2 separate regions of the Homo sapiens genome follow, and region 2 is linked to region 1. Evidence: fine-mapped expression QTL. Tissue or cell type: transverse colon. Region 1 holds a variant in brackets; the other region holds the start of a gene. All regions are shown on one strand. Distances are from middle to middle.

Evidence for each region. PIP is the estimated chance that this variant, and not a neighbour inherited with it, causes the effect.
Region 2: ZNF736 starts here. The variant in region 1 is fine-mapped to the expression of ZNF736 in transverse colon (GTEx, PIP above 0.99). The same link has a PIP of 0.9 or more in spleen.

Annotation. Positions count from the first base shown.
Region 1 is chr7:64,611,644-64,616,793 of GRCh38, reverse strand. LOC100128885 (a long non-coding RNA gene) reads right to left here. Exons shown (of 3, transcript NR_077227.1): 3 at 1-2,295. Among named protein-coding and RNA genes, the nearest start is that of ZNF680, 51 kb to the right of the region's middle. The variant C/A (reference allele first, on the strand shown) is at 2,685.
Region 2 is chr7:64,311,080-64,316,229 of GRCh38, reverse strand. It overlaps ZNF736 (zinc finger protein 736), which reads right to left and starts at 2,269. Exons shown (of 4, transcript NM_001170905.3): 1 at 2,077-2,269. The coding sequence starts at 2,079. RefSeq lists an enhancer at 2,037-2,216.

The DNA of each region.
Region 1 (5,150 bases):
TGAGAGTCACAATCTATTCTAAGACATTTGTGCTGGTATGAACCTATAATCATATCTGTGTTCTTAACCCCAGGTATAAGAGTCAACATCTCCCTAATTTTCTGTGTCTAGATAGGAGAGCCCTCACCTTTCTATGAGCTGCATTTAAAAATGTTTTACTATCCCATATCTGGCTGGATGTTCACATATGACAATTCCAAATGTGGACTGCATCCATATGTGAGATTACAAGTAGGGTCTGTCCGTCTGTGAGAATTACAATTTTAATGGATAGTAGGGTGTGCATACACACAAGTAAATCTCACCTGTGCACTGGGCTCTGCAATGACACACTGTGTACAACCTGAAGACTTTATACCATATGTGAGAGTGTGATACTCCTTTCTGACCTTTATAAAAACAGAAGACCCAGAATCTTATCCATTTTTCTAAGCCTAGCTATGAGAGACTGTATCAACTATTGGCTGGTTCAATATATGAGAGTCATCATCACACCTATGAGCTGGAACAACATTATGTGTAACAAATCCACGTGCAGGTAGGTAATAAGCAGGGGAGTCACATCACCCGGGTGCTGGGCCAAAGATTTGTACAATATTACTTGAGGGCAGGGACCGGGAAGGATAGTAACATCCCTTGGCTGCTGAGCCCAGAGATATGTTACAATGCTCCCTGTGGGCAGGGTTCAGGCAAGAGAGACACATCACCTGGTTGCTAGGTCCAGCAATATGTCACAATCTTCCCTGTAAGCAGGGTGCAAATGGAAGACAATAGTCACATTTCCTAGGTAATGAATGCTGAGATGTCACAAGGCCTTCTGTGAGCAAAGCCCACTCATGTGCCTCCCATCCATCCCCTATATCACAATACCCAAATATGTGAGCCCCAGGCAAAATAGGAGTCACCTCACCTAGGTTCTGGGTCCAGTGATACATTATAATCCTCTTTTTGGCAAGGCCCAGGCAAAAGAGGCACAAAAGAGAAATGGCAGGGGATGAATGAAAAAATATTTCATATCTCCATGGACAGAGCCCATGCAGAAGAGTCACATCAACTAGGTGATGGACCCAGACATATGTTTCATATACTATGTGAACAGGGCCCAAGCATAAGAGAGTTACATCATCTAAGTGCTGGGAATATTGATACATCATAGTCGCTTCTTGGGCAGAGTCTAAGTAGTGGAGGACAGTCATACCACCTATGGGCTGGGTCCAGAAATATGTCTTGATACTTCCTGAGGGGAGAGCCCAGGCAGTATTATCACATCACCTGGGTGCTGGAACAGAGATATGTCATGGTCTTCTCTGAAAGCAAGGACCAGGCAGGAGGCTCATGTCACATTTGGCCAGTGATAAGTCACAATTCCTTTCTAAAAGCAGGGCTTGGGCAGTAGTCACATCACCTAGTTTCTGAGACCAGGTGTCACAGGGGGCTCCACAGGGAGCATTGTAACATATCACTGGGCTCAGAAACCAGCTGTCACAATACTTCTGGTGGGCTAGGCCCAGGCTGGAGACACATCACCTAGTTGTTGTGTTATGTCACCATCTTCCCTGTGGGCAGGTGCAGGCAGAAGAGATGAGAGACGTATGCCCTATGTGATGGATACAGAGTAATGTCAGAAAGCTGCCTGTAGTCAGGGCTGAAGCAAAAATGTCTCATTTCCTAGGTGTTGGGCCCAGCAATATGTCACAATACCAAAAACATGCAAGGTCCAGGCAAAAGAGGAGAGTCACATCACTTAAGTGCTGGGTTCAGTGATAAGTCACTATCATTCTTTCTGGCAGGGCCCAGGCAGAAGTGAGTCACATCACCTAGATGACTAAAAAAATGTGTCATAATACCCCTGTGGGCAGGGTCCATGCAGGACAGTCACATGACCTAGACATTATTCCCAGCCGTATGTCACAAAAACAATGAATGTAGAGCCCCGGCAGGAGAGTCACATAGCCTTGGTGCTGGGTCCAGTGATACATCACAGTTTTTTATTGGGCAGAGTCCAAGCTGTAGAGAGAGTCATATCACCTAGTTGCTGTGTGTGACAATATATAATAATACTCCCTGAGAAGTGGGCTCAAGCAGGAGATTCACATCACTTAGGTGAGAGGTTCAGAGATATGTCACAATGCCCCCAGGTGAGTAGCAGTCAGGAAGAAAAGTTACATAAACTAGGGCCAGAGCCCAGCTATATGTCACAATTACCGCAGTGGGGAGCACTCAGGTATGACAGGAGAGTCACATCACATAGGAGCTGGGCCAAGCAATATGTAGCAATCTGCGCTGCAGACAAGTCTGAAAAAAGAAAGGTCACATCAACTAGGTGATGAATCAGAAATACAGCAAAATGATTCCTGTGGGCAAAGACCGAGCAGAAGAAATTACACCACGTATGTGATGAGCTTAGTAATACATCACTCTCTTTCCTTGGGCATGGTCCAAGCAAAAGAAAAGTCACATTACCTAGCTGTTAGGCCCAGAGTTATGTCACAATCTCTTTTACAACAGAAGCCCAGGTAAAAGGAGAGTCACATCAAATAGATGATGGTCCCAGAAGTATGTCACAATGCCTCTTGTTAGCAGGGTCCAGGCATACCAACTCACATCACCTTGGTGCTGGGTTCAGCAATATGTCACAATGCTTTCTGAGAGCAAGGCCAAAGCAAAAGGGCAACATCACCTTG[C/A]TGTTGGGCCCAGTGATATGTCACAATGTTCCTTGTGGGCAAAACCTAGAAAGAGTCACATCAGCTAGGTGCTGGGCCTAGCAATCTGTTTTGATACACCCTGTAAGGAGAAACCAGGCAGAAACTGTCTTATTAACTGTGTGATGAGCAGAAAGATATGTCACAATGCTCTCTGTAAGCAGGGCCTAGGCAAGAGAATTATATCACCTGGGTGTGGACCCAGCAATATGTCACAACAGCCCGTGTGGGCAAGGCACTGGCAGGAGAGCCACATAACCTGGGTGTTGGGTGCAGCAATATGTCACAGGGTTCCCAGTGGGCAGTGCCAAGGCAGGAGAATAGATTTACATTAGTTAGGTCCTGGGTTCAGCAATGTTTCACAATCCAATCTGTGGGCTGAGCCCAGGCAGAAGAATTCAATCACTCAGGTGCTGGGCAGAGGCATATGTCACAATCACAGCTGCAGGAATGTTCATAAATGAGATTAACAATCCTGCACATGTCCAGGTTCCAGGTATGAGAATCAACACCTCTTTTATGTTGGGCCTAAGTACATGATTCACAATCTCAACAGTGGACTAGATCCATGGACGAGAGCCTCAATTCCTCTCACAGACTGTTTTCTTAGTGGAGTCACAGTCTTTCAGGTGTACTGAATCTTGGTCTGAGTGTCAATAACCCACCTGTGGACTGAAATAAACGATGAGACAATTGTTCAACTTTTGGCACTTTTTTTTTATTGTGGGGTTCAGAATCTCAACAATGTGTTGTGTTCATGTGGGAGGGTGACAATCATTACTGTTGGCTGGGTGTGCTTATGAGTGTCACAATCTCACCTGTGTCCTGAGGTCTATTAGAACATTCTCTGTCCTACTTGAGGGCTTTGTACTGTATGCATGGGAGTGCAATCTTGTCTGAGACCTTCATGCTGGTATGGACCCATGATTGTACTTGTGGCCCTAAGCCCAGGTATGAGAGTCAACATGTCTCCAATTGGCTGAGTCCAGAAAGAAGATGCCTTACCTGCCTAGGAGCTGGGTTTAGAAATGTTTCACCATTTCAACTCTGGCTGAATGTTCACATATGACAGTCACAATTTCAACTATGGACTGTGTTTGTGAGATTAAGAACCTCATTAGTGAGTTCCATCCATGTGGGAGGTTGACAATACTAAGGGTTTTTAGGGTGAGCATATGAGAAACACAACCTTACCTGTGTGCTAGGCTCTGTAATGACACTTTCTGTACCATTCAAGACCTTTACACAATATGCAAGAGAATGGCATTTACAATCTTTATAAAGCGGAGGCCCATGAACTCACCTATTTGCCTAAGCCTTGCTAAGAGACACAGGATCTCTGCTATTGGCTGGTTCAAGGTATGAGACTTATGCCATCTGTGAGCTAGGCCAAGATAAATGTGACAATTACACCCGTGGATAGGGAATGATAAGTAGAGTCACGTCACCTGTTTTTTGGAGCCAGGAATATGTCAAAATCTTCCTGGAGGCCAGGGACTAGGCAGGAGAGTCACATTACCTGTTTGCTGGGCCCGGGAATATATCACACTGCTTTCTGTCAGCCAGGCCCAGGCAGGAGAGACACATCACCTGGTTGCTAGGCTCAGTAATATGTCACAATTTTCTCTGTTGGCAAGGTGCAGGCAGAAGAGGAGAGACACATTTCCTAGGTGATGGATAAAGAGATATGTCACAAGGCCCCATGTGAGCAGGGCCCAGGTGGTACTCCCATTCCCTACATGTTGGGCCCAGCGATATGTCAGAATACCCAGAATACACAGGGCCCAGGCAATAGAAAAATGTCACATTACCTAGGTACTGGCCCAGCAATACACCACAATTTTTTTTTTTTTTTTTTTTGCCAGAGCCTAAGCAGTAGAGGAGAGTCACATCACCTAGTTTCTAGGTCCAGCAATATGTTACCGGACATGGCCCAGGCAAAAAAGTAAAATTATTTATGTGAAAGACCCAGAGATATGCTACATTGTCATCTGTGTGTAGGGCTAAGAGAGAAGAAAAGTGTTACATAACCTAGGTCCTGCTCATGCCACCTGTTTCACAATCACCCCAAATGACAGGGCCCAGTCATGACAGTCACATCACATAGGTTCTGGACCAAGTGATATGTCACAATATTCTCTCTGTACAGTTTACAGGAAGAAGACAGTCACGTAATCTAGCTGATGGGCTTAGAGATATGTCAAAATAACCCCTGTGGGCAGGGACCAGACAGGATTACCTCACCTGTGTGCTGGGTTTGGCAATAAGCCATCTTTCTTCTGTGGGCATGACCCTGTCAGAAGAGAGTCACATCACCTAGGTTTTGGTCCCAGAGATATGTCACATTTTTTCTTATGGGCAAAGCCCAGGTAAGATAGGAGAGTCACATCAAATAGTTGATGAAGTCAGAAGTATGTCACAATGCCCTCTGTGAGCAGGGCTCAGGCA
Region 2 (5,150 bases), 300 kb after region 1:
AGCTGCTCCCCTGAGAGGCTCCACCCAATGCCTCAGGCTCTTCTCTGAAAGGAGATGACCCAGGGGCTAATGTTTGCTAGACACTCCAAGAGATATGGTCCTTGTGGGTATCTTGGATCATCCCCAGAAAGCTGTAATACTTGGACCAGGAAAACACAGGAGAGTGACTGAGGACACATCACCCTGCAAAGGATCCAAAGACATTCTGGGAAGGCGCGCGTGCCTAGAGAAGATGAGAGGAGATGCGCAGTGTCAGGTGACTACTCTTTGCTTTTCTGTCCTGTGAAATATGCACAAACAGACTAATATATTAAAAAGAGCCACCCACGGCTCTGTTAAACAAAAATAAACAAAATGCCACATCCGTTTTAAAATTAAATAAAGAACTGATAGTTCATAATGTGATTTGGAGAGGGATAGTTGGCATTTGGGAATGTGGGAAAGAAATTGGAAATTTAGAATTTTATACAGTCCCTAGAACAGTTAGGCTGGGAGAACAGTTTTAGATTTGAGACCCTGCTTGCCAAACATTTGAAAAATGCAGAGAAAACCAACGACCCTGTGGAGCATTAAAATAATTAAATAGCTAGCAATTAGGCTGAAGTGGCCATGGTGCCCTGGGATTCTGCCTAAGGAAACCTAACTACGTCGAAGGAATTTCTGGTAAATTATTAACTTTGAGAAACAACAACAACAACAACAAAACAACTTAGGCTTAACCAACCACAAGCTGCCAATAAAAAGCTCTAATTACATAACCAGGACATTTCCACCGGAGGGCTGCAAATGCAATACGTAACTGTAACCAATCAAATATTGAATCTGGTTTGCTTCCTCATACCTCTTAAAAAAAAAAAACAACCTTTTGTTCCAAGACCCTCCTTTGAGCCCCCAAACAACAAATCATAGCTGGGTGTTCTCTGATTGATAAATTACTGTTTGTGCAAGTAAACTATTTGTATTAATCGCTTCTGGCATTACTATAAATACCTCAGACTGGGTAATTTATAAGAGGATTAATTGGCTCATGGTTCCACAGGCTGCATAGAAAGCATAACACCAGCGTCTGCTTCTGGGGAGGCCCCACCCAGAAAGCTTAAAATCATGGATGAAGGTGAAGCAAGAGCTTGAAAAAGAGGCAAGGTGGGGTGCTGTACACTTCTAAATGATGAACTTCAGGGAACTCACTCACTATTGAGAGGACAATACCAAGAGGAATGGTGCTAAACTATTCGTGAGAAATCCGGGCCCACAATCCTTCCACCAGGCCCCACCTCCAACATGGGGGATTACATTTAAATAGGAGATTTGGGCTGGAAAACACATCCAAATTATATCCTAAAGTTGCCTCAATTTAGGCTAGGGTGGTGGGTCATGCACGTAATCCCGGCACTTTAGGAGGCCCGAGGCGGGCGGATCACCTGAGACCTGAGCTCGGGGAGTTCGAGACCAGCCTGAGCAACATGGCAAAAGCCTGTCTCTACAAAAACAAACAAAACAAAATAGGCGTGGTGGCGCACCCCTCTAGTCCTAGCTACTTGGGGGGCTGGGGTGAGAGGATCATCTGAGCCCAGTAGGTGGAGGCTGCAGTGAACCGAAATGCACTTTAGCCTGGGCAACAGAGTGAGACACTGTCTCAAAAATAAATAAATTTAAAAAAGGGCCATGATTTTATTTTTAAAAGGAGAAAGGAGGGACTAGGGACCCCACGGCCCACTGCTTCTTCCACGGAGGAACTCCAGACCCTAAATGAGAATTCCCGTCTTATGACACTCCCAACACCCCCACACAATCTGGAGGAGGGAGACTCGAGGTTGCGGCACAGAGCTGCCCAGGAAGGGATCTGAGCTGGGGAGAAATTCGAGTTTAGGGACAAAACAAGACGTAGCGTTTTGGCTGCTGGCTCAGCCCCTAATCTGCGATGGAGGGAAATGAGGATTGAGCTGTGCCCGCGGGGACTCGGGGATGCAGACTCCAGAGCAGACCGCGAGAAGGCCCAGATACCACCGCAGCCGGTTCCGGCCGGATTCAAACAGCCTCTTCCCCATTCTCGGGACACCCACTCCACGCACTCACCATTTCCCAGCCTCCAGATGTTCCGCCGTCCTCCCTATGGATCTCCCAGTACCTGCAGGTCACAGGATAACAGAAGCTATAGTAGAGTCACCGAGGAACTCCAGGAACGGAGGAGATGGAACAGTGGAGACGCGAACTAGGATCAGAGCCCGGAAGCTAGGAGACAAAGGCCCCGCCATATTGAAGAGGCCGCCTCTTCCTCTGTAGCTGCGCACTTGATTGGACAGTTTCACGCTGGCGCCACTGATTGGCTAGGGCTCCAGGCCCCACCCGTTTCAATCCTAAGTGACAGAAGATGTAATCAGACACTGGGCTGAATGAGGCAAGGGTGACAGGTTTTTGCCTGCAGCGTTTTCAGGCGAGTCCTCCCTGTGCTGGGGGCCTGGCCCTGCCTGAGAGACATTTGTATTTAACCTTGCATATAAGATTATATCACTTTCTGATTATATTTTCGTGTGTGTGTATATATTACATTCTGAATTATAGTTATGTGTATGCTGCAGGCCCTGTCTCAGCATCCTGTCTTTCCCTTTAGCTGCAGGAGATCAAAGTCCTCCAGGAGATGCAGCTGCTTCAGCTGGCTGTAGACAATTATCACCTTCAGTCTGTGAAGCAATTTTGGGTCTGCTTCCAATTAATGGAGTGTCTCAGTGAGACTGAGAGGTGAGGGCCTAGCAGATTGGTTAGAGGTGCCACTCGCCCAGGCCTCCCAAAACACCCTGTCTCTTTCCCACCAAAGCTGAGCCTGCCTGAGGACCTAAACAAGCATGGAGAACCAAGATGGGACCCTAGTCAGGGATAGTGCTGGGCTGTGGGGTAAAGTCAGCTAGGTCAGGGCCTCCAGGTGTGGGGAGGAGCCGGCCTCTTCTGTAGAGCCCTGGGCAAGTCACTGCCCTCTTTGGGCCTCTGTTTTCTTATCTAAAAAATGTAGGGATGATGAGCCTCACAGGGTAATGAGGAGCTTCAAAGGAGAAAAATTTGAGAGTGCTTGTGCCTGGCTCTTCCTGAGAGAGATGATGATGAGAACAATGGTGACGGCTACATATAACTGAGTCCTCACGAGGCCCAGTGAGGTAGGTGTGGTTCCCATCACACTTTCAAGTTGAGAAACAGTCTCAGGGAGGCCTGGCTGCATGCCCAAGGTTCCACACACAGTGAGTGTTGCAGCAGGGAGTGAATCTAGAATCAGAGTTTACTGGAGGTGGCAGGAGCACTGGACCAGCTTGACTCACACCAGTTATCCAGGGTACCAGGTCAATGTAACTGGGCATAACTGGGTGAAGGGAGCATAATATCACTGACCTTGTCCTTGACCCTGGCAGAGGAAGACACCCAAGTTGGCCACCCTAGAGAAGAAACCACAGAAAGCCCAGATGAGGCTAAAGCAGCAAAAAGGCAGGTACCTGTGATGGGGAAGAGCTCCAGGGATTCAGAGGGAAGAGCTCCTCCCTCCCAGCTGGAGGCCTCCACATCAAAAGAGCAAGGGGCCTTTCTCCCTCAGCCCTTCCCTCCTGTGGCAACAGTCCCTGAAATGCCTCTATAAGAGAAATCAGAGTAAAGGCCTGGAAGAGCTGGGCTGAGTGGATTTGGGAAACGGTGGAGCTAGGGACCACATAACATTGTGACTTGTTAAAATCTCACCACAGAGTTAATAAGGGAGTGCTTCATGTTTTTGGAGGCCAGCTAGGAAGAGGGGAGAGAGTTGGAGAGAGGCAGCTGCGTGTCTTTGGCTTTTTCAAGTAAAAGATGTGGATAGGAGAGTCCAGGAGATGGGGGCTTATGAGATTTCAGGGACAGGCCTTGAATGGACACCCAAAAGTGGATACTCATCCCCATCACCACCTGATAGCACAGGGTGTTGCTGACTTTCACCTCCCCACTCTCTCCCAATGTTGCCCCAGCTGCTCACCTTCCTTTTCTTTCTGGGTGTTACATTTCCCTAGAAGTCAGCCAATGGTCATCAGAAAGGCCCCTTGGACCCTGACTAGGTCCCCTCCCCACACTCTTCATACTGCATTACTGCCAGGGCCACCAGGGGCAGGGGATGTGCACAAAGCAGGACTTGGGTCTGCAGCAGGTTCTGGGGTTCAAAGGGGACAATGGGAGCTGAGGCTCAGGGACCTCCCACCCCAACTCTCTTTGATGACAGACATAAAAACTGAGGGCTCCCATTTAAAAAAGTGCTCAGCCAGGCCAGGCACGGTGGCTCACACCTGTAATCCCAGTACTTTGGGAGGCTGAGGATGGTGGATCACCAGGTCAGGAGTTCAAGACCAGCCTGGCCAAGATGGCAAAACCCCGTCTCTACTAAAAATACAAGAATTAGCTGGGCGTGGTTGTGGGCACCTGTAATCCCAGCTACTAAGGAGGCTGAGGCAGAGAATTGCTTGAACCTGGGAGGCGGAGTTTGCAGTGAGCCAAGATCATGCCACTGCACTCCAGCCTGGGTGACAGAGGAGGCTCCATCTCAAAAAAAACCAAAAAACAAAAAACAAAAGTGCTCAGCCACATACGAGCTGCCTGCCCTTGGAGAGGCCTAAGTTTACTATCCTTCCATTGGCACCATCTGAGGGAGAGTCTGAGTCCAGCTCAGGCAAAACCTCACTGGGCTTTGCAAGCAGACAGCTCTGCAGCTTCATCACTCAGGGAACAGGGACTGGTGGCTGGTGTGGAATCTTCAACATTCATAGGGAAGAGGGGCCTGATACCTCAGCTCACAGAGGCAGCCGTGACGCTCTCATGAGAGGAAGTTTGCCAAGTGCTGAGATCTAAGGGTGTAGTCCTGATTCTCTTCTCCCAAGCCTCAGGATTCTGGTTCCAGCCCTGCCCATCCCAGGCTCACTCCCATCCATATAATCCTTTCTGGCAGGGTTTCCCATCACCAGATAACTGGAAAATGTGTCCAGGATGGAGGCAACACCCTGTGCTGTCGGGTGGTGATGGGGATGACTACTCACTTTTGGGTGTCCCTTCGAGGCCTGTCCCCTGAAATCTCATAATCCCCTGTCTCCTGGACCCTCCTATCCGCATCTTCCACTTGTCCCCCCCTTTAGCTGCAGGAGATCAAAGTTCTC